7 linked regions of the Homo sapiens genome follow. The protein of the gene in region 1 purifies or fractionates together with the protein of each later gene. This does not show direct contact. Each region holds a gene or a part of one and is shown in the gene's direction. Other genes may lie near its edges. The genes, in order: APOOL, STARD7, YME1L1, BAZ1B, CARD19, DDAH1 and ALDH1L1.

Evidence for each region.
Region 2: the proteins of APOOL (region 1) and STARD7 purify together in Homo sapiens (affinity purification with mass spectrometry; one large-scale study listed by BioGRID and IntAct). This does not show direct contact.
Region 3: the proteins of APOOL (region 1) and YME1L1 purify together in Homo sapiens (affinity purification with mass spectrometry; one large-scale study listed by BioGRID and IntAct). This does not show direct contact.
Region 4: the proteins of APOOL (region 1) and BAZ1B purify together in Homo sapiens (affinity purification with mass spectrometry; one large-scale study listed by BioGRID and IntAct). This does not show direct contact.
Region 5: the proteins of APOOL (region 1) and CARD19 purify together in Homo sapiens (affinity purification with mass spectrometry; one large-scale study listed by BioGRID and IntAct). This does not show direct contact.
Region 6: the proteins of APOOL (region 1) and DDAH1 purify together in Homo sapiens (affinity purification with mass spectrometry; one large-scale study listed by BioGRID and IntAct). This does not show direct contact.
Region 7: the proteins of APOOL (region 1) and ALDH1L1 purify together in Homo sapiens (co-immunoprecipitation; one large-scale study listed by IntAct). This does not show direct contact.

The regions. Positions count from the first base shown.
Region 1 is NC_000023.11:85,090,877-85,093,815, forward strand, and holds the end of APOOL (MICOS complex subunit MIC27 precursor), read left to right. Parts: 3' UTR 1-1,514; coding exon of another isoform or gene 1,515-1,685; 3' UTR 1,686-2,308; coding exon of another isoform or gene 2,309-2,349; 3' UTR 2,350-2,439; downstream 2,440-2,939. Other genes in the region: SATL1 (spermidine/spermine N(1)-acetyltransferase-like protein 1), read right to left, coding at 1,515-1,685, 2,309-2,349. UniProt on the Homo sapiens protein: Component of the MICOS complex, a large protein complex of the mitochondrial inner membrane that plays crucial roles in the maintenance of crista junctions, inner membrane architecture, and formation of contact sites to the outer membrane.
Region 2 is NC_000002.12:96,188,328-96,191,827, reverse strand, and holds part of STARD7 (stAR-related lipid transfer protein 7, mitochondrial isoform 1 precursor), read left to right. Parts: intron 1-3,500. UniProt on the Homo sapiens protein: May play a protective role in mucosal tissues by preventing exaggerated allergic responses.
Region 3 is NC_000010.11:27,133,885-27,137,384, reverse strand, and holds part of YME1L1 (ATP-dependent zinc metalloprotease YME1L1), read left to right. Parts: intron 1-999; coding exon 1,000-1,109; intron 1,110-2,403; coding exon 2,404-2,554; intron 2,555-3,262; coding exon 3,263-3,346; intron 3,347-3,500. UniProt on the Homo sapiens protein: ATP-dependent metalloprotease that catalyzes the degradation of folded and unfolded proteins with a suitable degron sequence in the mitochondrial intermembrane region.
Region 4 is NC_000007.14:73,477,294-73,480,793, reverse strand, and holds part of BAZ1B (tyrosine-protein kinase BAZ1B), read left to right. Parts: intron 1-2,224; coding exon 2,225-3,500. UniProt on the Homo sapiens protein: Atypical tyrosine-protein kinase that plays a central role in chromatin remodeling and acts as a transcription regulator. Involved in DNA damage response by phosphorylating 'Tyr-142' of histone H2AX (H2AXY142ph).
Region 5 is NC_000009.12:93,106,217-93,109,716, forward strand, and holds part of CARD19 (caspase recruitment domain-containing protein 19), read left to right. Parts: intron 1-1,457; coding exon 1,458-1,600; coding exon of another isoform or gene 1,601-1,611; intron 1,612-2,774; exon of another isoform or gene 2,775-2,876; intron 2,877-3,500. UniProt on the Homo sapiens protein: Plays a role in inhibiting the effects of BCL10-induced activation of NF-kappa-B. May inhibit the phosphorylation of BCL10 in a CARD-dependent manner.
Region 6 is NC_000001.11:85,325,660-85,329,159, reverse strand, and holds part of DDAH1 (N(G),N(G)-dimethylarginine dimethylaminohydrolase 1), read left to right. Parts: intron 1-3,500. UniProt on the Homo sapiens protein: Hydrolyzes N(G),N(G)-dimethyl-L-arginine (ADMA) and N(G)-monomethyl-L-arginine (MMA) which act as inhibitors of NOS. Has therefore a role in the regulation of nitric oxide generation.
Region 7 is NC_000003.12:126,170,587-126,174,086, reverse strand, and holds part of ALDH1L1 (cytosolic 10-formyltetrahydrofolate dehydrogenase), read left to right. Parts: intron 1-3,500. UniProt on the Homo sapiens protein: Cytosolic 10-formyltetrahydrofolate dehydrogenase that catalyzes the NADP(+)-dependent conversion of 10-formyltetrahydrofolate to tetrahydrofolate and carbon dioxide.

The DNA.
Region 1 (2,939 bases):
TCAAGCGATCCTCCCACCTCAGCCAACCAGACATGAGTGACTGTGCTCAGCCTTTTTTAAAAAAATGAAGGTATTTGGTATGGCCGGGTATGGTGGCTCACACCTATAATCCCAGCACTTTGGGAGGCCAAGGTGGGTGAATCACCTGAGGTCAGGAGTTTGAGACCAGCCTGACCAACATAGTGAAACCCTGTCTCTACTAAAAACACGCAAAAAGTGCAAAATTAGCTAGGCGTGGTGGCTCATGCCTGTAATTCCAGCTACTTGGGAGGCTGAGGCAGGAGAATCACTTGAATCCGGGAGGTGGAGGCTGCAGTGAGCCGAGATCGTGCCATTGCACTTCAGCCTGGGCACAAGAACAAAACTCAGTCTCAAAAAATAAATAATAAAAAATAAAGGTATATAATATGTCTTAGATTTGATGAAATATGAGTGTGTTTGAGATCTGATCCAAGGTTTTAAAAAATTCATTTCAAATCCTGGAGATAAATTCTGAGGAGCTTACTTATGAAAAACTAGCAAGTGATAGCTGGTATTTACAGATATGGTACTTTACACAATTTATGTAATTAATATTTTCTCACAGACAAGGTTCCTTGTGGATATCACTGAATAATTTTTGTGTAGTTTCTATGCCCATGAAGTGCCTGGTAGGTAGTAGGAACTCACACGTTCTGCTATGCTGGTTGCAGCACAGGACACAAAAGTTAGAATTATTTCAAAGGACTTATACTCTACTAGGAAAGAGAGAAACATAGAAATATAGTGTTGTATGTGGTATCTTCCCTAAGATAAGTACAACCAAAGAGCTATGGATGTTCAGAGATAGAATGTAGTACTGGGATGATGTCAAGGAGGCAGTGGTACTTAAGCTGCTCAAGGTAGGGAAGCAGTTTACTTGCTAGTTTTTCATAAGTAAGCTCTTCAGAATTTATCTCCAGTATTTGAAATGAATTTTTTTAAACCTCAGATCTGAATATATTCAAACACCCATATTTCATCAAATCTAAGGCATATCATATACCTTTAATTTAAAAAAAAATGCTGAGCAGAGTTGCTTATGTCTGGGAGGCTGAAGTGGGAGGATTGCTTGAGGCCAAAAGTTTGAGACCAGCCTGAGCAACATAGCAAGATCCTGCCTCTAAAAACAAACAAACAAAAAATGCTGCCAGTTGATCATTACATTTATCCCGACATCAGATATGTCAAATTGTGAAAAGCACCTTAATTTTGATGAAATATGATAGGTAAAAAATAGCGCAAAGCTAAGTATAAGTGACTTTTAAATTATCTGCTCTTTTGGATTATCACTACTGCTACTAGCCGTTAGAATATTGGTTTGGATAATGGAAAGTTGACTAGAGCTACAAAATCTGTTTCAAAATAAAAGATCTGCTCAAACAAGAATGTGATGATCACTTGCTGTATTGTACAACAAAGTCAAACTGCTGTTAGACTCAGGTGACAGTCAAATGTTGGAGGCTGTGTTGGGATGAGTTGTTACAAAGCCTCTTTCATTCTTCCCATGCCATGTCCAGGAGTTCTTCTCTGTTAAACCTGAAGAGATGCCAGCCCTCCTCAGAGGAAAGGTCTAAAGCCCCTCGACTAGTATAGTAGTTGATAGAAGCCTGGTTCCAAATGACGACAAGAAAGTGCATGCAGTTACATTGAGTTGTGATGGCTATCTGTTTAAAAACAAACAAGCAAATATTACTTTCATTTGAAAGTATAATCTTCGTTAACACATATATTTTATTGAAGGTCTACTCTATGCAAGACACTATGTGTGAATAATACTTCCAAATATAGTAGTTACCTTTTGAACTTTTCTATAGCTGTAAAAAGAAAAAAGTCTCACTGTTCTGAGCTTTAAAGCCCTCTTTAAAATCTCAAAACTGATTTGCAAAGCCTTTATCATACAGAAAAGGTGTACCTAAAAGAACACATGTTCTCATATGTTTCCAAAATACAAGAAGATCTTGCTTTTATAGTCTTGTAATATTCATACTGTGAGCCTGTGTTTTTGAATAAAAATGCTTTCTAATCTCCCTCCTTCTTACTTTCCCTTGATAGCAAAAAGGGTGTATAGTGTGGTTGTGGATTATATATAAATCAATTTTAATTGACTATAATTCATATACTGTATATGATCATCTGATTTGAAAATCCAGTTTAATTTGGGTAGAAATTTGAAGTATATGTTGGGGTTATGTTCAAATGGTGAGATTAATGATTTAATTTATGCCCTGTGAATATTTATTAAGAAAAGGTTAATGTATAGAATATCAATACTAATTGTAATACATACCTGACTTAGCCTCTTCAGCATTTCAGCTCCAATACCTAGGCCTTTTAAATAGACAATGCAAAGTGAAAACTGCAAATTTCACTTAACTTGTTATTTGCTTTAGTTTAAAATAAATAATATCTAAAACTCTGTATCTGTTTTTTGTATATTATTAATAGCTTCTGGAAACACAACTCGTGAATGCTTTCATATCCCTTTTTCCTAATTGGAATGACGTACCAAAGGTCATAGAAGAGTTTGGGTTTATTTTAAAGATCAGTGAAGAAGTGAGTCTCTGCCACTATTGTCTTATAACGGTATATTTCTTAGCTGTTTTTACTGAAAACCACCTAAAATGTGAAAGCATTTTTTAAAGATAAAAGTATAGCTGTGTGGCCTATACTCACACGATGGCTCACACATGTGATGGCACGATGGCTCACACCTGTAATCCCAGCACTTTGGGAGGCCAAGGCAGGAGGATCACTTGAGCCCAGGAGTTTGAGACCAGCCTGGGCAACACAGACCCTGTTTCTCCAAAAAATAAAGAATTAGCTGGGTGCTGTGGCACATGCCTGTAGCCCCAGCTACTTGGGAGGCTGAGGTGGGAGGATTGCTTGAGTGTAGGAGGTTGAGGTTACAATGAGTCGTG
Region 2 (3,500 bases), on another chromosome or scaffold:
CTGGTTTTAGTTCCACTTCACCTTATAATGGCTTTGTTTCTCCCTATTGCTTGTGTTCGATTTAGGGCTATATGGACAGTGTTCTTTAGTGTAGTTTTCTTATTCTCATCAAGTTGTTTTATTTATACCACCTCAAGGACTTGAGTTGGTCCTTGTAAAAAAAAACAAAAAAAAAAGTACACTGGATAGAGAGGAAAGCAGGCAGGGCACTAGGGTTAGAAGACATGATTCAAGCAAAGACAAAGATAGGAATGAGCCAGGTATGCACTGAGAGACTCACATGCTTAGAGAGGAAAGTAGAGGTTAGGGAGAAGTGATAAATTGCATTGACTGTGTACAGAGGGTACTCGAAAACCATGTAGCTGAGTTTGGATTTGCCAAATGGGAATTAGATCTTTGAGCCAAGGTAGGGGGTTTTTATCATGGAAAATTTGAAATAGATACAAAAGATACAGAAGTAGAAGAGTATAATGAACCCCCTGTATCCATCCCCAGCTCCAGTTATCAACTTATGGCCAAAATTGTTTTATCTATACCCTTTCCCATTTCCTTTCTCACTCCCCTGATTATTTTGAAGCAAATTCTAGCTTTACTGTAGGAGAACCCAGTTCTTCTATTATATATTTCAGTATTTATCTCAAATAAGGATTTTGGGTTTTTTTGGAAACAGGGTCTCCCACTGTTACCCAGGCTAGTGTGCAGTGGTACAATCACAACTCACTGCAGCCTTGACTTCCTGGGCTCAGGTGATCCTCCTGCCTCAGCCTCCTGAGGAGCTGGGATTATAGGCGTGTGCCAACATGTCAGGCTAATTTTTTGTATTTTTTGTAGAGATGGGGTCTCACCATGCTGCGCAGGCTGGTCTCAAACTCCTGGACTCAAGCAATCCTCCCACCTCAGCCTCCCAAAATGCTGGGATTAGAGGCGTGAGCCACTGTGCCCAGCCCAAGTAAGAAATTTGTAAAACAGCTCTGGGCCAGGCAGCATGGAGAGACCCGGTCTCTACAAAAAATAAAAATTAGCCAGGCATGGTGATATGTGCCTGTAGTCCCAGCTGCTTGGGAAGCTGAGGTTGGGAGAATCACTTGAGTCCAGGAGGTCAAGGCTGCATTAAGCCGTGTTTGTGCCACTGCATGCCAGCCTGGGCAACAGTTTGAGACCCTTCTCAAAAAAAAAATAAAAAATAAAAAAGCCAGGCGCAGTGGCTCACGCCTGTAATCCCAGCACTTTGGGAGGCCGAGGCATGTAGATAACTTGAGGTCAGGATTTTGAGACCAGCCTGGCCAACATGGTGAAACCCTGTCTCTACTAAAAGTACAAAAATTATCCAGGCATTGTGGCACGTGTCTGTAATCCCAGCCACTTGGGAGGCTGAGGCAGGAGAGAATGGCTTGAACCTGGGAGGCAGAGGTTGCAGTGAGCCAAGATCGTGCCGCTGCACCCCAGCGTGGGCGACACAGTGAGACTCGTCTCAAAAAAAAAAAAAAAAAAAGACACAGACTTAAATGTACTTAGTTTTTAAATATATTATCCTTATTGATGCTCAAATTGATTCCAGTTTTGGTCATTGGGAGTCTTCTTGTTGGCTCAAGCCCCTTTGACATGACCCCAGAAGCTGTCTTGCTTTCTGGTGTTACAAGATGTTGTAGGTTCATCTTGTATATTTTTAGTTTTACACCTGGAAATTAACATTTCTTTAGGGAGTCCTGGTTCCTTTTAGTGGAAAATGGCATTTAAATACCACAATTTGGCTGCTAAGAATATTCATAGCTATTGGGTCGTTTATTGTTTGTAGGCCTTTTCAGAAGACAGAACCAAGTAATACATTTTACTGGTATGTTTATTTTTAAGATAAAATAAATCCTAAGTATATACTAATACTTTTAATTCAAATTCAGGACTATGGAGTTTTTATTTCTATCTTCTATCTTTTGTCTTTCCCTGTACTGTAGAACTCAATTCCCAGGAACCCTAACACAACTACTAATTTGTTGAAATACACAGCCTCAGAATAACAATACAGTAAGATCACCAATAATACGAAGAATAAAATTTTGTGGTCTTTTTGTCTTCAGGATGTGCATACTGTGTACAAAATATTGATTTTTTTTTTTTTTTTTTGGAGACGGAGTCTCGTTCTGTTGTGCAGGCTGGAGTGCAGTGGTGCGATCTTGGCTCACTTGCAACCTCCACCTGCCAGGTTCAAGCAATTCTCCTGCTTCAGCCTCCCAAGTAGCTGGGATTACAGATGTGCACCACCACGCCTAGCTAATTTTTGTATTTTTATTAGAGACAGGGCTTCACCATGTTGGCCAGGCTGGTCTCGAACTCCTGACTTCAAGTGATCCGCCCGCCTCGGCCTTTCTGAGTGCTGGGATTACAGGCATGAGCCACCGTGCCCAGCCCCCAGCTAAGATTTATGACAGTGTCAGAGTAAAGATATGCAGCTGGATCATAAGAGAAAAAGGCACAGGAGGAGTCTGGAGGAGTCCATGTGAAGCTTCCTTCCCCAGCAATGAAATGTAGCAATATGTGTGCAATGTTTCTGTTTAGGAAGGCCATTAGAAATTTAACACTCTGGCTGAGCACGGTAGCTCATGCCTGTAATCGCAGCACTTTGGGAGGCTGAGGCAGGAGGATCTCTTTAGCCAAGGAGTTTGAGATCAGCCTGGGCAACACAGGGAAGACCCAGTCTCTGCAAAAAATAAAAAATTAGTTGTGGTGGTAGTGCATGCCTGTAGTCCCTGCTACACAGGAGGTTGAGGTGGGATGACTGCTTGAGCCCAGGAGGTGGAGGCTGTACTGAGTCGAGATTGCATCACTGCACTCCAGACTGTGCAACAGAGTGAGACCTTGTCTCAAAAAAAAGAAAAAAAAAACACCCAAAGTGTTTTTTTTGTTTTTTTGTTTTTGTTTGTTTTGTTTTGTTTTTCTGAGATGAGTTTCGCTCTTGTTGCCCAGGCTGGAGTGCGATGGCGTGATCTTGGCTCACTGCAACCTCCGCCTCCCGGGTTCAAGCAGTTCTCTTGCCTCAGCCTCCCGAGTAGCTGGGATTACTGGTGTGTGCCACCACACCTGGCTAGTTTTTTTTTTTCTTTGTATTTTCAGTAGAGACAGGGTTTTGCCATGTTGGCCAGGGTGGTCTCAAACTCCTGACCTCAGGTGATCCATCTGCCTCAGCCTCCCAAAGTGCTGAGATTACAGACGTGAGCCACCACACCCAGCCCAAAGTGTTTTTTAAAGACGGAGTCTTGGCTGGGTGCAGTGGCACACGCTTGTAATCCCAGCACTTTGGGAGGCCAAGGTGGGTGGATCACTTGAGGTCGGGAGTTCGAGACCAGCCTGACCAAGATGGAGAAGCCCCGTTTCTACTGAAAATACAAAATTAGCTGGGCATGGTGGTGCATGCCTGTAATCTCAGCTACTGGGGAGGCTGAGGCAGGAGAATCACTTGAACTCAGGAGGTGGAGGTTGTGGTGAGCCGAGATTGTGCCATTGCC
Region 3 (3,500 bases), on another chromosome or scaffold:
AGGGAAATGGTTGAATGAATTGCACTGTGATAAATTGGAAAAGTGTAAACAGCCATTAAACTGAATGCACTGTTCTGTTCTGAAAAATATGCACGAAAAATGAAAATTGCAAAAAATTAGGTACTATTTCTAGAGTAGTTTTTATAGAAAGAGCACCTGTGTGCATGCATACAAGGGTAGTCAGAATTGTTAACAGGTTATACTTCTGGGAAGTGGGATTGGGGCTTGAGAAATTAGAAGACACTAATTTGATACACTTACCCTTTTTTCAAAAACATTATGTAATTACCAAAAACATGTAAAAATCAGTTGTGTAGATTCAATCTATTTTAATTACTTGGTTGGGTTTTTTTTTTTTTTTGAAATCACAGTTTATCAGAGTTGATACTCAGTTTTTTAAATTATATTGTATAACCCTCTGACTTCTCTATTTACCTTTATCCCCTATCAACATAAAAAATAGGCCAGGCGCGGTGGCTCACGCCTATAATCCCAGCACTGTGGGAGGCCAAGGCAGGTGGATCACCTGAGGTTAGGAGGCTGAGGCAGGATAGTTGCTTGAACCCAGGAGGCGGAGGTTGCAGTGAGCAGCAATGCCTTGCACTCCAGCCTGGGCAACAAGAGTGAAACTCCATCTCAAATAAATAAATAAATAAATAAATAAATAAATAAATAAATAAATAAAGTTCCTTTTGAAAAAAGGAGGATAGAAAAAACTATAAGCTGGGCATGATAGATTTAAGTTCTCAGACCTAATCCCAGCTCTTTGGGAGGCTGAGGCAAGAGGACTGCTTGAGCCCAGGAGTTCAAGGCCAGCCTGGGCAATAAAAGGAGACCCCGTCTCTACAAAAAAGAAGGAAACAAAGGAAAACGTATTGAAGTGTCAGGCAAATTAGATAGACTAGGATATACAGGTAGGGTGTCAGACTTTAGAATCTTAGGCATTTTTCTTTTCCTGTAACAATTTATAGTGACAGTGAATGGTATTGTTTTATTTAGTTTTCATACAGTCTCGGGGTTTTAAAACTTTGAAATCAAGGACACGACGTCTCCAGTCTACCTCCGAGAGATTAGCTGAAACACAGAATATAGCGCCATCATTCGTGAAGGTAATTAGACCTTTTTATGATCCAAAAAGCAAATATTTTCAAGTTGTTAGAGTGAGGAGCTTCAATATCTGATTTCTTTTGTTGGCTGATAGATATTCTTCCTTCTTTCCACTAATAATAAGGGATTAGTAACCTGTGTAATCATTATACCTCTAACTCTTCTGGGCACCAGACTTGCCTCTCCACTTACTAGATTTTTTTCCCACAAACCTACACCTGTCGAGGTGTTCTCTGTATTAATGAGCAGCATCCACCCAAGCTAAAAACCTGGCTATCAACCTACGTTTGTCCATGTTGCCTTACCTCCCACATCCATTAACCACTAAAGTCCTGTTGATCCAACCTCCTAAATATTTCTTACATCTGTTCCACTGCCATAGATAGGCTATAACTATTTGTTGCCTAAATTACTGTAATGAATACTTGTTTAGTCTCCTTGCCTCTAGTCTTGCTGCGTTCAGTCCAGCCTCCAGACTGCCACCCATCAATCTTTCTAAAATAATGATCTAGTTATATTACTCTGCTTTATTGCTTACCTCCACCTGATACACTGGGAATTTCATCATTTGATCTCTACCTGCCATGTTTCTCTTCTCACCATTCAATATGCCCCTCTGTTTCCCTGCTCCTCTCTTGGCATTGAAGTCTTATATAAGATTGCTTACAGTTCTTGAGCACTGAAGGCTATTGATTCATGCCTCCGTCAGATTGTTCATAGTGTTTATTCCCTGTGTTTTAGATGTCCTATTCTCTGTAAGGCCTTTTCCATATTCCTGAGGTAGCATTGATTTACCACCATACATAATACTTCTAACATAATATCAAAATGATTTAAGAAACTTAGTTATTTATATATCTTTTTCCAGTAGACTGAAAACTTTAAGATCAGTGGTTTATTTATCTTTACATCTTCAGAACTTATATAAGGCCAAGTATATGAACGGTGCTTAGTAGACATTTAGTAAATTAATGAGATTTTTTCCTCTAGCAAAGATAGAGGGATATGAACATTAAGCCAATCAAACCCTAAAATAATATGTGACCTGTTTTCAGTGTAGTGTTCGTGCAGAGAATAATGCCACTTTCTTTATATTATTAATTGATTGATGCAGGAATGGGATCTAGTGTTAGTTTCCTAGTTATTGATTAATTCATTGCTGAGTCTTAATCTGTTTCTTCACATTGACAGTAAAAATTATACAGAATTTTAGTGAATTTTTTTGAGTGGTCACAATATTGTTGGGAAGTATCACTGTGTTGTTAACCAGTACTGATGTGTTGTTTGTGTATTCAGGGGTTTCTTTTGCGGGACAGAGGATCAGATGTTGAGAGTTTGGACAAACTCATGAAAACCAAAAATATACCTGAAGCTCACCAAGATGCATTTAAAACTGGTTTTGCGGAAGGTTTTCTGAAAGCTCAAGCACTCACACAAAAAACCAATGGTAAGTTGAATTGACACCATCCGTGTTTGAGAAGAGTAACTGAAAGGAAGTCATAGTCCTACATTTAAGTTTTAAGTAACTTTTCTAAGACCATCTATTGATTAAATTCCACTATATTTGTAACTTAATCTATGTAGAAATGGCGATACTGCTGATGGTTTCCCTTTCTCAAGAGAGAAAACAAATTGGAGAACAGGAAGTGTGAATGGCTTCATAAAGGTTTTTGTTTCTTTATTTTTTGTTTGTGTTTGTTTTTGAGACACGGTCTTGCTTCATTGCCTAAGCCAGAGTGCAGTGGTGCAATCATGGCTCATTGTAGCCTTAACTTTCTGGGCTCAAGTGATCCTCTCACCTCAGCCTCCTGAGTAGCTAGGATCACAGGCATGTGCCACCACGCCCAGCTAATTTTTGTGGAGATGGAATCTTGCCCTGTTGTCCAGGCTGGTCTTGAACTCCAGGGATCAAGTGATCCTCCTGCCTTGACCTCTTAAAATGCTAGGATTACAGGCATGAGCCACCATGCTTGGCCTTAAGTTTTTGATAATAGGGTACTTACAGGAAATCATAGCAGTTGTGAGAAAGAATGCCAGATTCCAAAATTGGATGTGATGAAATATGATTATTAACAATAACCTAATATTTGCATTTCATTGAGCTGTCATATTTCATAAATGTGATTTCATGTAAAGCTTTTTCTTTCTCTCCTAGATTCCCTAAGGCGAACCCGTCTGATTCTCTTCGTTCTGCTGCTATTCGGCATTTATGGACTTCTAAAAAACCCATTTTTATCTGGTAAAAGCTTTTTTTATTTGTCTAACTTATTTCTTATTCCTTTAAATACATGATTCCTTTTAATGCCTAATCTAACCCTTAAAGAAAGAACATATTAATGTTTACAGTACTAGAATTAGGCTTTCATTCCTAGTAGTGGTTAGTTTCCCAGATT
Region 4 (3,500 bases), on another chromosome or scaffold:
TAAGGGGCTCATAATTTCGTTATTCAGTAATCCTTAGCTGTTTTCTTGCCTGTAGTCTCATCTCAAACTAGCCTAACCTACTTGTCTTTAGACTTCTTCTTTACATGTTGCTCTTTTCTGGTTAGTCCCTTCTGTTGAAAAACTGGATGTTCATATCTGTGAGTGCCATTGATGTACTTAGCTGATTTTGGTAATAAAAATCAAGTATTCTAGAGTTGATCTAGTCTTTTCCCTAATCACATAAAGCAACAGTTTTCTTCTGAAATGGGCTGTATTTTGGATTACTTGACTTGGTTATTTCAATTAGTTTGCATTTTAGCTACCAGGCATTTTTCTTTGTAATTATCTTTTTTAAAGCATTCCACTCAAAGAGTTTGGTTTTTCTTTTTTTCAATACACATTTAAAAAGAGAAGCAGTGGTATCATGACAAATGGACCGGACTGTAACCTGTTAACTGATTGTATATGATGGAGATGAGGCATGGGAGGTATGAGGAGATGAGATGTGTATCAGGAGAGTGGGAACATGAGTGGACTAAAGGAACATACTGTGTTTGCTAGGTGATATGGAGGACCCGTTTGAGGTGCCTGGCAATGAATTTAAAGTGAGACCACTCACTTTTTTTTTTTTTTTTTGAGGCAGAGTCTTGCTCCATCGCCCAAGCTGGAGTGCAGTGGCGTGATCTCGGCTCACTGCAAGCTCCACCTTGCGGGTTCACGCCTCAGTCTCCCAAGTAGCTGGGACTACAGGCACCCGCCACCATGCCTGGCTAATTTTTTTGATTTTTAGTAGAGACTGGGTTTCACCGTGTTAGCCAGGATGGTCTCGATCTCCTGACCTTGTGATCAGCCCGCCTTGGCCTCCGAAAGTGCTGGGATTACAGGTGTGAGCCTCCACACCCAGCTGAGACCACCCACTTTTATTTATCTTTTATTTTAGCCGTGTTTCAGCTGAACATATGCAGGGCAGGAGTAAATAGAGTGAGTTAATCAGGGTTATGGTTTTTCCAAGTAGATACAATAGAATAAGAGAGACAAGGGAACTATAGGTTTATGTGAGATTAATTATCATGATTGACTAAAATTTAATCTGGGTAAAGCAAGACATGGGGGTTAGGATGGTGAAAATGTAATAGAATTAATGGATTTAAGGTTCTGGTGAGATTGAAGGATTGTAGAGTTGTGGGACTGGAGGGAGTGGATTTGGAACATAAGAGGGTATGTTCAAAGAGAGGATGGTGTGAAATTAGTTGTGGGAATGAGTTCTTTTTTTTTTTTTTTTTTTGAGACGGGGGTCTTGCTCTGTCCTCCAGGCTGGAGTGCAGTGGTGTGATCCTGGCTCACTGCACCCTCCTCCTCCCGGGTTCAAGCAATTTCGAGCCTCAGCCTCCCGAGTAGCTGGGGTGACAGGCATGTGCCACCATGCCTGGCTAATTTTTGCATTTTTAGTAGAGACGGGGTTTCACCATGTTGGCCAGGCTGGTCTCCAACTCCTGACCTCAAGTGATCTGCCTGCCTCGGCCTCCCAAAGTTCTGGGATTGCAGGGGTGAGCCACTGCGCCTGGCCAGAATGAGTTCTTAAAAGTGTTGGGTGAGGACAAAGGGGAGTTTGAGGCCCAGGTCAGGAGGTGTCTTTATCTATGAGCAGTGTTCATGTTGTTCTTACACTCACTGATGCTTCTATAAGAAAATGTACCTCAGAGTTAAGACAAAAGTACTTTAAACAGTATCATTTCTACTTAAAAGCATAAAATGCCCTGAATAGGAACCAACAGTGAAAGGATGAAAATTCAGTCTTGTTTCAAGAACAGTGCTTTTTAAACTTTTCAGATATTGCCATTTTGTAGATCAGATATCCTTAATCTGGGGTCCATGGATGGATTCTCTGAAATTGTATGCATAGTTTTTGTCTACTATTTCTGCTGGAGGGGTTCACAGATTTTGTTTAAATATTTAAGAATCATTAATATACATAAACAGAACTAGTTACATAGCAAAAATGTCTAGTATTAAGTCTGGATGTCAAGGGAATTTTGTGTTGACATGACAAAAACATTAGCTAACATTCATGTCTTTGTTTTTTCAGGGACAAAGTATCTATGAAGAGATATGAATATGTAGCTTTACCTGAATAGCTGGGGAAGAGGGCCTTTAAGATGCTTAAATGTTGCTTAAGTTAGTTTTAGATTTTAAAATTAATTTTGCTCCTATTCTTAAATTCTAGTATATGACTCTCAACCCTTCTACTAAGAGGAAGAATACTGGATCCCCAGACAGGAAGCCCTCAAAGAAATCCAAGACAGACAACTCTTCTCTTAGTTCACCACTAAATCCTAAGTTATGGTGTCACGTACACTTGAAGAAGTCATTGAGTGGCTCGCCACTCAAAGTGAAGAACTCAAAGAATTCCAAATCTCCTGAAGAACATCTAGAAGAAATGATGAAGATGATGTCGCCCAATAAGCTGCACACTAACTTTCACATTCCTAAAAAAGGCCCACCTGCCAAGAAACCAGGGAAGCACAGTGACAAGCCTTTGAAGGCAAAGGGCAGAAGCAAAGGCATCCTGAATGGACAGAAATCCACAGGGAATTCCAAATCTCCCAAAAAAGGACTGAAGACTCCTAAAACCAAAATGAAGCAGATGACTTTGTTGGATATGGCCAAAGGCACGCAGAAGATGACACGAGCCCCACGGAATTCTGGGGGTACACCTAGGACCTCTAGTAAACCTCATAAACATCTGCCTCCTGCAGCCCTACACCTCATTGCATACTACAAAGAAAACAAAGACAGGGAGGACAAGAGGAGCGCCCTGTCCTGTGTTATCTCCAAAACAGCTCGTCTTCTCTCTAGTGAAGATAGAGCTCGTCTCCCAGAAGAATTGCGAAGTCTTGTTCAAAAACGCTATGAACTTCTAGAGCACAAAAAGAGGTGGGCTTCTATGTCTGAAGAACAACGGAAAGAATATTTGAAAAAGAAACGGGAGGAGCTGAAAAAGAAGTTGAAGGAAAAAGCCAAAGAACGAAGAGAGAAAGAAATGCTTGAGAGATTAGAAAAACAGAAGCGGTATGAGGACCAAGAGTTAACTGGCAAAAACCTTCCAGCATTCAGATTGGTGGATACCCCTGAAGGGCTGCCCAACACGCTGTTTGGGGATGTGGCCATGGTGGTGGAATTCTTGAGCTGTTATTCTGGGCTACTTTTACCAGATGCTCAGTATCCTATTACTGCTGTGTCCCTTATGGAAGCCTTGAGTGCAGATAAGGGTGGCTTTTTATACCTTAACAGGGTGTTGGTCATCCTCTTACAGACCCTCCTACAAGATGAGATAGCAGAAGACTATGGTGAATTGGGAATGAAGCTGTCGGAAATCCCCTTGACTCTGCATTCTGTTTCAGAGCTGGTGCGGCTCTGCTTGCGCAGATCTGATGTTCAGGAGGAAAGCGAGGGCTCAGACACAGATGACAATAAAGATTCAGCTGCATTTGAGGATAATG
Region 5 (3,500 bases), on another chromosome or scaffold:
TCTTTTGTAGACAGCACTTAGTTGTATCATATTTTAAAAATCCACTCTGCCAATCTATGCCTTTTGATAGGAAAATTTGGCTGGGTGTGGTGGCTTACACCTGTATTCCCAGCACTTTGGGAGGCTGAGGTAGGCAGATCACCTGAGGTCAGGAGTTTGACACCAGCCTGGCCAACATGGTGAAACCCTGTCTCTACTAAAAAAAAAAAAAAAATACAAAAACCAGCTGGGTGTTGTGGCACATGCCTGTAATCCCAGGAAGAATTGCTTGAACCCAGGAGGCAGAGGTTGCAGTGAGCCGAGATTGGGCCACTGCACTCCAGCTTGGGTGACAGAGCAAGACTCTATCTCAAAAAAAAACAAAAAAAAAAAAACAAAGTTTAACCTATTTGCATTTGAAGTAATTGCTGATAAGGAATGTATTACTACTGCCATTTTGCTATTTGTTTCCTGTATGTCTTGTAGCTTTTTTGACCCTCATTTATTCTATTACTGCCTTCTTTTGTGTTTTGTTGATATTTTATAGTAACACATTTAGAGTCCCTTCTCAGTTTCTTTTGTGTTATATTCTATAAATATTTTCTTTGTGTACATGGGGAAACAGGACAAGCTGCCACAAGTATGTAGGGTGATGCACTTGTTCAGTCCCTGTGGGGGTCCTGTGCCCCATCCTCTCCATGCCCTTCCGTCATCACTCCACCGCTCAGCCTTAAACATCTGCCATTCTAAGAAACATTCTTAATGGAAAAGGTGGTAAAATGATATTTTAATGGTGATTCTGGAAAAAAAAAAGGCAAATGAAAAGCATTTCTAGCCCTCTGGGAGAACTCACTGGTTTATTGTTGGTAGAAGCTTCTTAAGGCCTTGCAGACACACTGTGTCCCATGGTGATCCCAGCACAGGCCACCCTGAGCCCTGTGTCCCTGTATCTGTGCCACTGTGAAGATCTGCAGAGCGCACATCTGGGCATTCTTGATCTCGAACTCCTGAGCTCAAGTGATCCACCCACCTCAGCCTCCCAAAATGTTGGTATTACGGGTGTGAGCCATCACAACTGGTCTGAGCCACCGTGCCTGGCCCTGGGCATTCTGAGCCACCTGTGCCACCTGTACCTTCCCCAGAACTGAGCTATTTCCTGATGGCCCTGCAGGTGGCCCATGAAAAGTAGATTCTTCGCCCCTCTGAGTTTGTTTTCTGTGATAAGCTCTGTGAAAGTGGGTTTCCACCGCAACCCCTCACTTCCATCTTCTGGAGAGGCAGGTTGGCAGGCCAGGGGCAGCTCTCAGCTGGGCAATGCGCACCACACAGGCTGGGATGGCTGTGATTCTGCAGGTTCACCCTCCTGGTGGGAACCCACCTTGGGGGTGATGCCTTCCTGTGGTCAGTGTCAGTACGAGGCTGTCGTCTCTGGTCCCCTTGGGCTGTGCTGGCTCATGACCCTGTGCTATCTGTTTTAGATCAGACCTATTGTGACCGCCTGGTGCAGGACACGCCTTTCCTGACAGGCCATGGGCGCTTGAGTGAGCAGCAGGTGGACAGGATCATCCTCCAGCTGAACCGTTACTACCCACAGATCCTTACCAACAAGGAGGCGGAAAAGGTGCTGAGGAGGTGAGGGGGGTACCCGAGACACTGCTCAGTTTCCCTTCCTTTCTGGGCTGGGAGAAGCTGGTGACCAGCCCTGGGTCATTCTCTCATGGGATGACACACTAGGTATGTCAGGATTCAGAGGTGACACATCTGGACCTGGCTACTAAGGCTGCCTGAGCTACAAACTGGCCCTTTGGGGTGAGCCCAACCAGGCTCGGAACATCAGCTCTCTGTGCCTCGGTTTCTTCATATGTCATTGGGTCTGCTGTCCCCTTCCCGAGTTGCTGGGAGGTTACAGGAGATAACATGTGACAATACATGAAGCACACAACAGTATAAGATACGGAGGGAGGCGAGAAAGAGGGCAGGAGGGAGGGGTGAGGAGGGAGGAGGCAGAGGGAGAGCCGAAGTGGGATGGGGAACAGATAATGGGCCCGGCCCACCCCAGTGCCACAGGGCTTTGCACTCTGCATCTTCCGAAGGTTCAAAGCGGGCAAACAATTGCTTCCTTTTCTCTAATTTCTATATTACTGTACGAGGCTGGAAAGCCCAGCATGTCACAGGTAGGCAGCTGAGCTTCTAGGAAGGCAGATGCTGACTCACCCCACAGCCGCGCCCCAGTCTGCCCCTCTCAGCAGTGCTGAGCGGGCTGGTCCCCTCAGAACCCCAGCCTCCCCCATGTGTGGAGTGGACACCGAGAGCCCCTGCCTGGCAGGTGTGGTGAGGACTGACTGAGCTGAGCCGGGTAAACGCCTGCCCGAGAGCCCTTGTCGCCAGATGGCCCTGCAGCCCTGTGGGCAGCCACGCTCATCACCCCATCTCACAGAGGTGGTCCGAAGGCTCAAGAGGCAGCCACTTGCCCAGGGCCACTCATTTCAGGAGTGTCAGGCCACATCTTGAGTTCATCCTATTATTTGGGAAAGTGCCCAGGGCCAGTGGCTGTCACTCTGTCACATGGCCCTGGCCTCTCAGAGCTGCAGAGCTGGGCACACCAGGGTGGCTCTGCTGGAGATGGCATTTAAGATGCAATTCCTGGGCTCTGTCTTGGGAGGTCTGTTCTGCTCCATCACCCCAGTGCCAGGTGGCCCTGAGGGGACATTGGATGAGAGAGTTAGCCACACCCTGCCGACCCTACCCACATCTGTGGCTCTGGCGCCCCCACTGAGCCACCTGTTCCTTGACAGGTGCCACGTGCAGGGCTATCCTGAGGGTTGGGGCATCTCCTGGAACAATGAGGTTGGCCCACAACAGAACAGGAGTCAACACGGGCCCTGCTACTGGCTCAGGTGCTTCTTCCGTTTTGAAGGTGGTACAGTAATTTTAAAAGTTAGGAGCTCAAATCCAAATCTCTTATTATTGCAATTGAAGTCTAATGCATGTTCACTTTTAAAAAGTTTAGAAAGTTTAAGACGTTTATACAAGAAAAAGCACATATTCCTTCCTCACAGACACCACAGCTCCTGCCACCCATCTGCCTGCCATTTTCACACTGCCATGGTTTAACTCCAGTTCCCTGTGGCCATGTAGAATGATATGCTGCCACCAGGTGGCAGCACCAGGCCACAGACTCCAGGTCCTGGAGGTCAAGGCCCAGTGGCCTGTCCACTGACCTTGAGAACCACACATTTCTCTGTCATACACATCAAAAGAGCCAATACTTCTGTCTTTTTTTTTTTTTCTTTGAGATGGAGTCTCTGTCGCCCAGGCTGGAGTGCAGTGGCATGATCTCGGCTCAGTGCAACCTCTGCCTCCCAGTTTCAAGCAATCCTCTGGCCTCAGCCTCCCAAGAAGCTGGGATTAAACATGCACCATCATGCCCAGTCAATTTTTTGTACTTTTAGTAGAGATGGGGTTTCACCGTGTTGGCCAGGCTGGTGTCAAACTCCTGACCTGGAACTCCTGATCCGCCT
Region 6 (3,500 bases), on another chromosome or scaffold:
GGAATGTATGACATTCCATGCTTTTGCTTTGTAGTCACCTCCGGACATGCATGAGTCACACTGAGAGGTGGGGAATTTGCCCAGACCGCTAGATCCAGTGAATAAAGTCAGGCCTAAGAGATGTAGTCTTGCCATGTTTCTTTCTCTTTCAATTCATCTGGTACTAAGAGACATGGGTGATTTATTTATCTGTGGGTAAAGAGTACAATGAAGCTTCTGCAGATCACAAATTAAAATGGAAAGCCAACTGGCAGTTATCTGGTGATTATGAGTGGTGGGAGCACTTAGCCTGAATGTGTGGGCCAAAATATGCCACACACAGTTTTCCCAATTGCTTAGAAAAGTAAGTCAATGTGAGTAATAGATTTTCTAGATTTTGTTTTGTTTGTGTCTAGGTTGACCAGGTAGCAGTGGTTGTGTATACATGTTCTAAGGATCTCTCTGAGGTCCTCAAACCACTGGGGTCCTACTTAGTAAACCTCTGGCTCAGAGAACTGCCTCCCCAGTTGTCTGGAAGAAATTCTGAACTTCTTGGGTAAACTAGGTCCAATTCATGTGACAGGATGACCGTCCAGTTCTGACTGCAAACATGAGCAGACTGGCCATCTTGGTCCACCCTCAACAGCACATAATAAACAGAGATTTAGACATAGTGGAATCCCATTCCCTGCACCTGGAAAAAAGCACGTTTGTGAGACTGACCAAAAGCTATTGTCTAGAAGTTTCACAAATCCTAACTGCCACCTTGCATATCGAGGCAGCCCCACTCTACTATGAAGAAGTCAATCTGCCCATTGGGTTTATGGACTATTTTACTAAATTGGGGTCACAACCTGACAGAGGCTTATGTGTTCGGTTTGATATACACAAAAGTTTTTCTTTTCTTTCTTTCTGTGAATGCCCTTAGGTGCCACATACTCTGCAGGTAATTCCAGATCCAACCCCCTGTTGTCTTACTTTGTCATCCAGAGTCATTTGAGTTAGGACCACAGAGTATAGTGCCCTTCTGTATGGCTTTGAAAAACAGACAAACCTTGGCCTTGTTGATTTTAGCCATGTTTTTTCACATTAAAAATAATGAGTTGTATTTCTGTTTCTGGACATAGACCATACCTTGTTTCTCTGAGGGAATTCAATTGTTTACCCATGTGATTGACCACACAGTTCATCACAGTGCCCTCCTGAGGTTCTCTGTAGCGTTTAAAAAGGTGAAAGGAATGAAGAAATGAACCAGTTAGTGCAAACATATTTTGGTCACCTGCTATATGTCAAGTGACTTGCAAGAAACAAAGAGGGAAGTGAACCGACTTTTATTACACATTTAATATCTGCTAGAAGCTTGTGCTAAGCATTTTATGTACATTATCTGTTTTGGGGTTTTTTTTAAATAATCTTCAGAGTTACCCTGTGGAGGATAGGTATAGCATTCCCATCCCATTTTACTGCTGAGGGAATTGAGGCTCACAGGGCATATGTGACTTTCCCAAAGTCACACAATTAGTGTGTGGCTGAGCAAGGCTTCAGACCCAGACCTTTCTGACTCTGAAGCCCATGCTCTGTCCACCTCATTATGCCTGGACCTGCATTCAAGGAGGTAGCAGTCTGGTTGAAGAGAGCAAAACTGCACAAAAACTCATAGTAAAATTTGTCCTTATTCCAAAAACTTTGGGAACTTTGTAGCAATTATCTCTCTAGGGGATCTAGGTAGAAGGGATGCTAAGCCTGCAACACTACTAGATTACATGTTAACGTAGGCCTTAGAAAGAAGGAAGCTGAAGAAGTAATTGTGAGAATATGGTAGGTCTAGTCTTTTATGGTTTTTAAGACTAAGGATTAGACTCCAAGACAGATTATCTGTGGCTCAGGCTGGAGTGCAGTGGCACTATCTCGGCTGGTGGCAACCTCTATGATCTTCCCACCTCAGCCTCCTGAGGAGGTGACTACAGGTGTGTGCCACCACACCCAGCTAATTTTTTTGTAGAGACAGGGTTTCGCCATGTTGCCCAGGCTGGTCTCAAACTCCCGGGCTCAGGCGGTCTTCATTTGTTCCCTTGCACACAATAATAAATGGAAGCTGCTATTATTGTGTTTTGGAAGCAGCCAAAAAGAAAATCTGCATAAGAAGAACTAAATTGCAATTCGTAACAAAAGAGCTACTTGGGTCTGTTTTTTTATTCTCTCAAGCGTCTTCATATTATTTCTGGGCATATCCATTTTATAAAGAGGGCTAAATTGAATATGTTGTTAATTTTCTTAGAAAAGTTAATCTTTAGGAGTGTCTTTAACTTCTTAATTGCCCACATGTTGGATTAGATCTAAGGTTTCTAATCAGGGCTGTAAAGAAAGACCCACTCCATAGGTGAGCCCCTCTATGGGCCTATCCCTTCAAGAACAATTTAAATTCAAAAGTGCAAGAGAGATGTCCAGTTAAGTCCTTTACCTATACCAGACGGTAGCAGGTCATAACAGGATTACATACAAGAAAAGAATTAATGGTACTGCCAGAGAATGAATAATAAGTATCAAGTGAATGTGAAAAAGTAGGTGTTATGTAGTTTGTAGGAGGTAGTTTCCTGCTGCAGAAGTTGAGAAAGAGCAAAGTGAGATGATTAAGAAACGTTTTGAGTTGCACAGATCTGGGTTTGAATCTACCTATGTGACCTAAAGCAAGTTATTTGACCTCTCTCAGTGCAGTTTCTTCATCTGTAAAATAGAAGTTTGAGATTAGATAATAAATGTAAAATGTTTGGCATGGTGCCCTGCTAGTTCTTATTGTAATATAATTATCTATTTTTCTGTCAGTTTCCTCCACTAAACTGTAATCTTGGAAAACTGGGTCTGTGACCTGTTCATCTGTATGTCTCAGCCTTTCATACAGTGCATAAGCTCATCCCCATTCCTGATGTTTCATTCCATGTGAAGGGTATTCCATTATGGGATTGCTCTTGGCCTCTCTCCACCCTTGACATATTCCACACTAGAAGTGAATGATTTACCTGACTGGTGAGTCAGGAAGGGCTTACTATGTGCCACTCTTAGGAATGAATTTTCTACAGGAAGCATGCTGTCTCTCTTCTGCTTTTCATACCATAAATCTTACTATCCAGTGCCCCCATGACTGAGTGGGCATGTCTGCCTAGTAATATGAAGCACATTTCCATACAAACACTGAAAAGTAAAAGTAAATGGGACCATAAAGGTAGATTAGAACCAGATTGTGGAAAAGATCATGTTATACCTTCCTAGCATGATATTTCAGCAGATTCCTTAAAACTGTATGGATATTGATAAAGAGTAGAAAGAGTCTACATGACTAAACCCCAAATAATATTTGTTTTTGTGGGTTTTTAATTTGGATATTCTTGTTGTTAGGGGGAGGAGTGTTGTTTTTTGATAGTTTTGATTATGTTGAGGAGGTAAGGATGAGGTATCAATATTTTAAATTTTGTGCAGAGTTCATTTTTGTGTTGTTTTTAAAGTTATTTTATGCTAGGATACTA
Region 7 (3,500 bases), on another chromosome or scaffold:
AGCCTGGGCAACAAGAGTGAAACTCCGCCCCCCCAAAAAAAACGTTAGTGGGGACTGACAGAGAGGTGTTGATGTCTCCAACTGTAATAATAGTGGATTCATCTATTTCTCCTTAAAATTCTGTCAGTTTTTGCTTTACACATTTTAGCACTGTTGTTAGGCACATACATATTAAGGAGTATTATGTCTGCTGGGATAATTGACTCCTTTACCATTATGTAGTGCTTCTCTTTATTCCTAATAATTTTCCTTTCTCTGAAGTCTGCTTTATCTGAAGTTAATAGAACTACTCCATATTTCTTTTGATTAGTGGTAGCACGGTATATCTTTCTCCATCCCTTTATTTGTAACCTATCTGGTTTTTATGTTGAAATGGGTTTGTTGTAGACAACATATAGTTAGGTCACGATTCTTTATTCACTCTAGATAGTCACATGTTTTAATTGGTATATTTACACCATTGATATTTGAAGTGATTTTTTGATATAGTTGGATTAATATTTACCATATTTATTACTGTTTTCTATTTGCCCTTTGTTTCTTTTTTCTTCCACACTTTTTTCTGCCTTTTCTGATCTTAACTGAGCATTTTATATGATTCCATTTTCTTTTCTCTCTTAGCATATCAGTTTTACTTTTTTGTTGTTGCTTTTTTAGTGGTTGACCTACAGTTTGCAATATACACTTAAATCTAATTTAAGTCTGCTTTTGAATAACACTATACAACTTTATGGGTAGTGTAAGGGCCTTATTGCAGAGTATTCTTGATTCCTCCCTCCCATGCCTTATTATTACTGCTATCATTCATTTCACTTATCCATAAGCTACAATCACTGAATACATTGTTGCAATTATTATTTTGAACAAATTGTTATCTCTCAGATTAAGAATAAGAAAAAAAATTATTTCACATTTATTTCTAATACTCTTTTGTATGTTGAGTTTCTGACTTGTTTAATTTTCCTTTTTTTCTGAATTACTTCTTTTAACATATCTTGTAAGGCAGTTTACTGGTGACAAATTCCTTCAATTTTTGTTTGAGAAGTCTTTCTCCTCCACTTTTGAAGGACAATTTTACTGCATACAGATGGAATCTAGTTAGTTCTAAGTTGATGGAATGTTTTCAGTTCTTTAAATAATTCTTTCTATTCTATTCCTGATTGCATGGTTTATGAAGAGACGTTTGATGTAATCCTCATCTCTCTCCCTCTATAGGTAAGGTGTCCTGCCCTGCCTCTCCCTGGCTTCACTGAAGATTATCTCTGTGTCTTTTATTTTTTGCAGTTTGAATATGATATGCCTAAGTATAGATTTTTTGGGGGGTGGGGGGTGATCTTTATCCTATTTGGTTTCCTCTGAGCTGCTTGGATCTTGGTTTGGTATCTGTCTTTAATTTTGGAAAATTATCAGTCATTATCACTTCAAACATTTTTACTATTCCTTTCTTTCTTTTTATTCCATCTGATATCCCTATTACAAGGATTTACACCTATGGCAATTGTCCCACCATTCTTGGATATTCTGTTTTGTCTTTTTTATTCTATATTTCCCTTTGCATTTCAGTTTGGGAAGTGTTTGTTGATATTTCATCCATCTCATTGATTATTTCCTCAACTGTATCCAGTCTATTGATAAACCTATTAAAGACATTCTTTGCATTTATCACAGGGTTTTTATTTCTAGACTTTTTTTGATTTTTTTCTTAATTTCCATCTCTCTGCTTACATGACCAATTTGTTCTTATATGTTCTCCACATTTTTCCATTAGAGCTCTTAGCATTTTAATTATCATTGTTTTAAATTTTCCATCTGAAAATTCCAACATTGCTTCCATATCTGATTGTGGTTTAGGTGCTTGTTTCATCTTTGCAAACTGTGTTTTTGTCTTTTATATATCTTGTAATTGTTTTGCAGAAAATCAGATATAATGTATTGGGTAAAAGGTACTGAGGTAGATAGGCTTTTAGTGTGAGGTTTGATATTTACCTGTCTAGGAGTTAGAATGTGTTTACTATTTGCTATAGCTGTGGGTATCAGAGGATATAATTTTCTCTCTTCATCTTCTTGTTTTTGTCTACCCTGTTGTCTTTGGGTTTTTGTAGAAACTCCTTAAATAGGCTCTGGCTTGCAGTTCTCTTATCCGTAATCCCCTTGTTACTATACTGGAGCCCTGTGGATGTAGTAGCAAGGTGTTTTGGTGGGGGGAAGTGTTTTACAGTCCTACAATTAGGTCTTAGTGTTTCAGTGAGCCTGCACCCCTGGGCTGTGACCTTCACAAGTGTTTCTCAGTCCTACCCCTTTTAGGTGATGAGAAAGGCTAGAGGGGCTGGATTTGGGTTTTTCCTCATCACTTAGGTTAGTTAGGCCCTGGGTGTCCATTCACTTAGGCTCTGGTATAATAGTTTCTATGAGGGTAGATATGTTGAGAAAAAAATGACTGCTTTCCTTGCCTCCTGCCAAAACCAGAAGGGGATTTTTCTCCAATCCTTACTGTGAGAACTGTAAGAATTAAAGAAAGAGGAAAGAAATACAAAAGCTGGCTTGCCAGTTAAGACATTTATTTTAGAGAAAATCAACCTGAAAGGAGCCTTCTGGCCAAGTTAGGTCAGAGGCACACTCTCTTACAGACTGAGTTTTTAAGGATTCAGGATGGGAGAGTTTATCAGAGGCTTGGACTGCTTCTGTGTCTCTTTGTTGTGCTTATCTGGGAGGGAGAGTTGTGTGCCTGTTTTCATACATTTTTCCTGCAGCTGCAGGTATAGTCCCTGAGTCTGTTTTTACTTATTTATTGAGACAGAGTCTCGCTCTGTCGCTAGGCCGGAGTGCAGTGGCGCCATCTCGGCTCACTGCAACCTCTGCTTCCCAGGTTCAAGCGATTTTCCTGCCTCAGCCTCCTGAGTAGATGGGACTACAGGCATGCGCCACCACGCCTGGCTAATTTTTTGTAGTTTTAGTAGAGACGGGGTTTCACCGTGTTAGCCAGGATGGTCTTGATCTCCTTACCTCGTGATCCGCCCGCCTCGGCCTCCCAAAGTGCTGGGATTACAGGCATGAGCCACCGCGCCCAGCCAAGAGTCTGCTTTTAGCTTTCCTGTCTTAGTGCCCCTGAAGGAAAGGGAATGTGCTTGTTCCTTATTATTAAGGCCCACTGTTTTACTGGGGCCCATCGTATGAGGGTGAAGTTTGGCAGTTACCCAAGATACTTTCCCCCCACCTCCCTTTGTGTCCCAGCTGTCTTATCCGTGTTTTACTGTCTGCTCTTTCTGGCTGCTTGTAGTTAGAAGAGAAGTGATTTCCTTGAAATGCATGAGGCTAGAAAGGGAGCTGGAATTTAAAGTGGCGGTGTTTGTCTGAGATGACAGTACTCCTGCTCTATCATTCCAGACCCTATGGTTATAAAAGGACAAGAGGGGACATGTTCTTTCTAGCTACTTCCTGCTGATGCGGGGGTGGAGAGTTTTTTGGTCTTAGATTGACTGTAGGATCAACACCATTTGTAG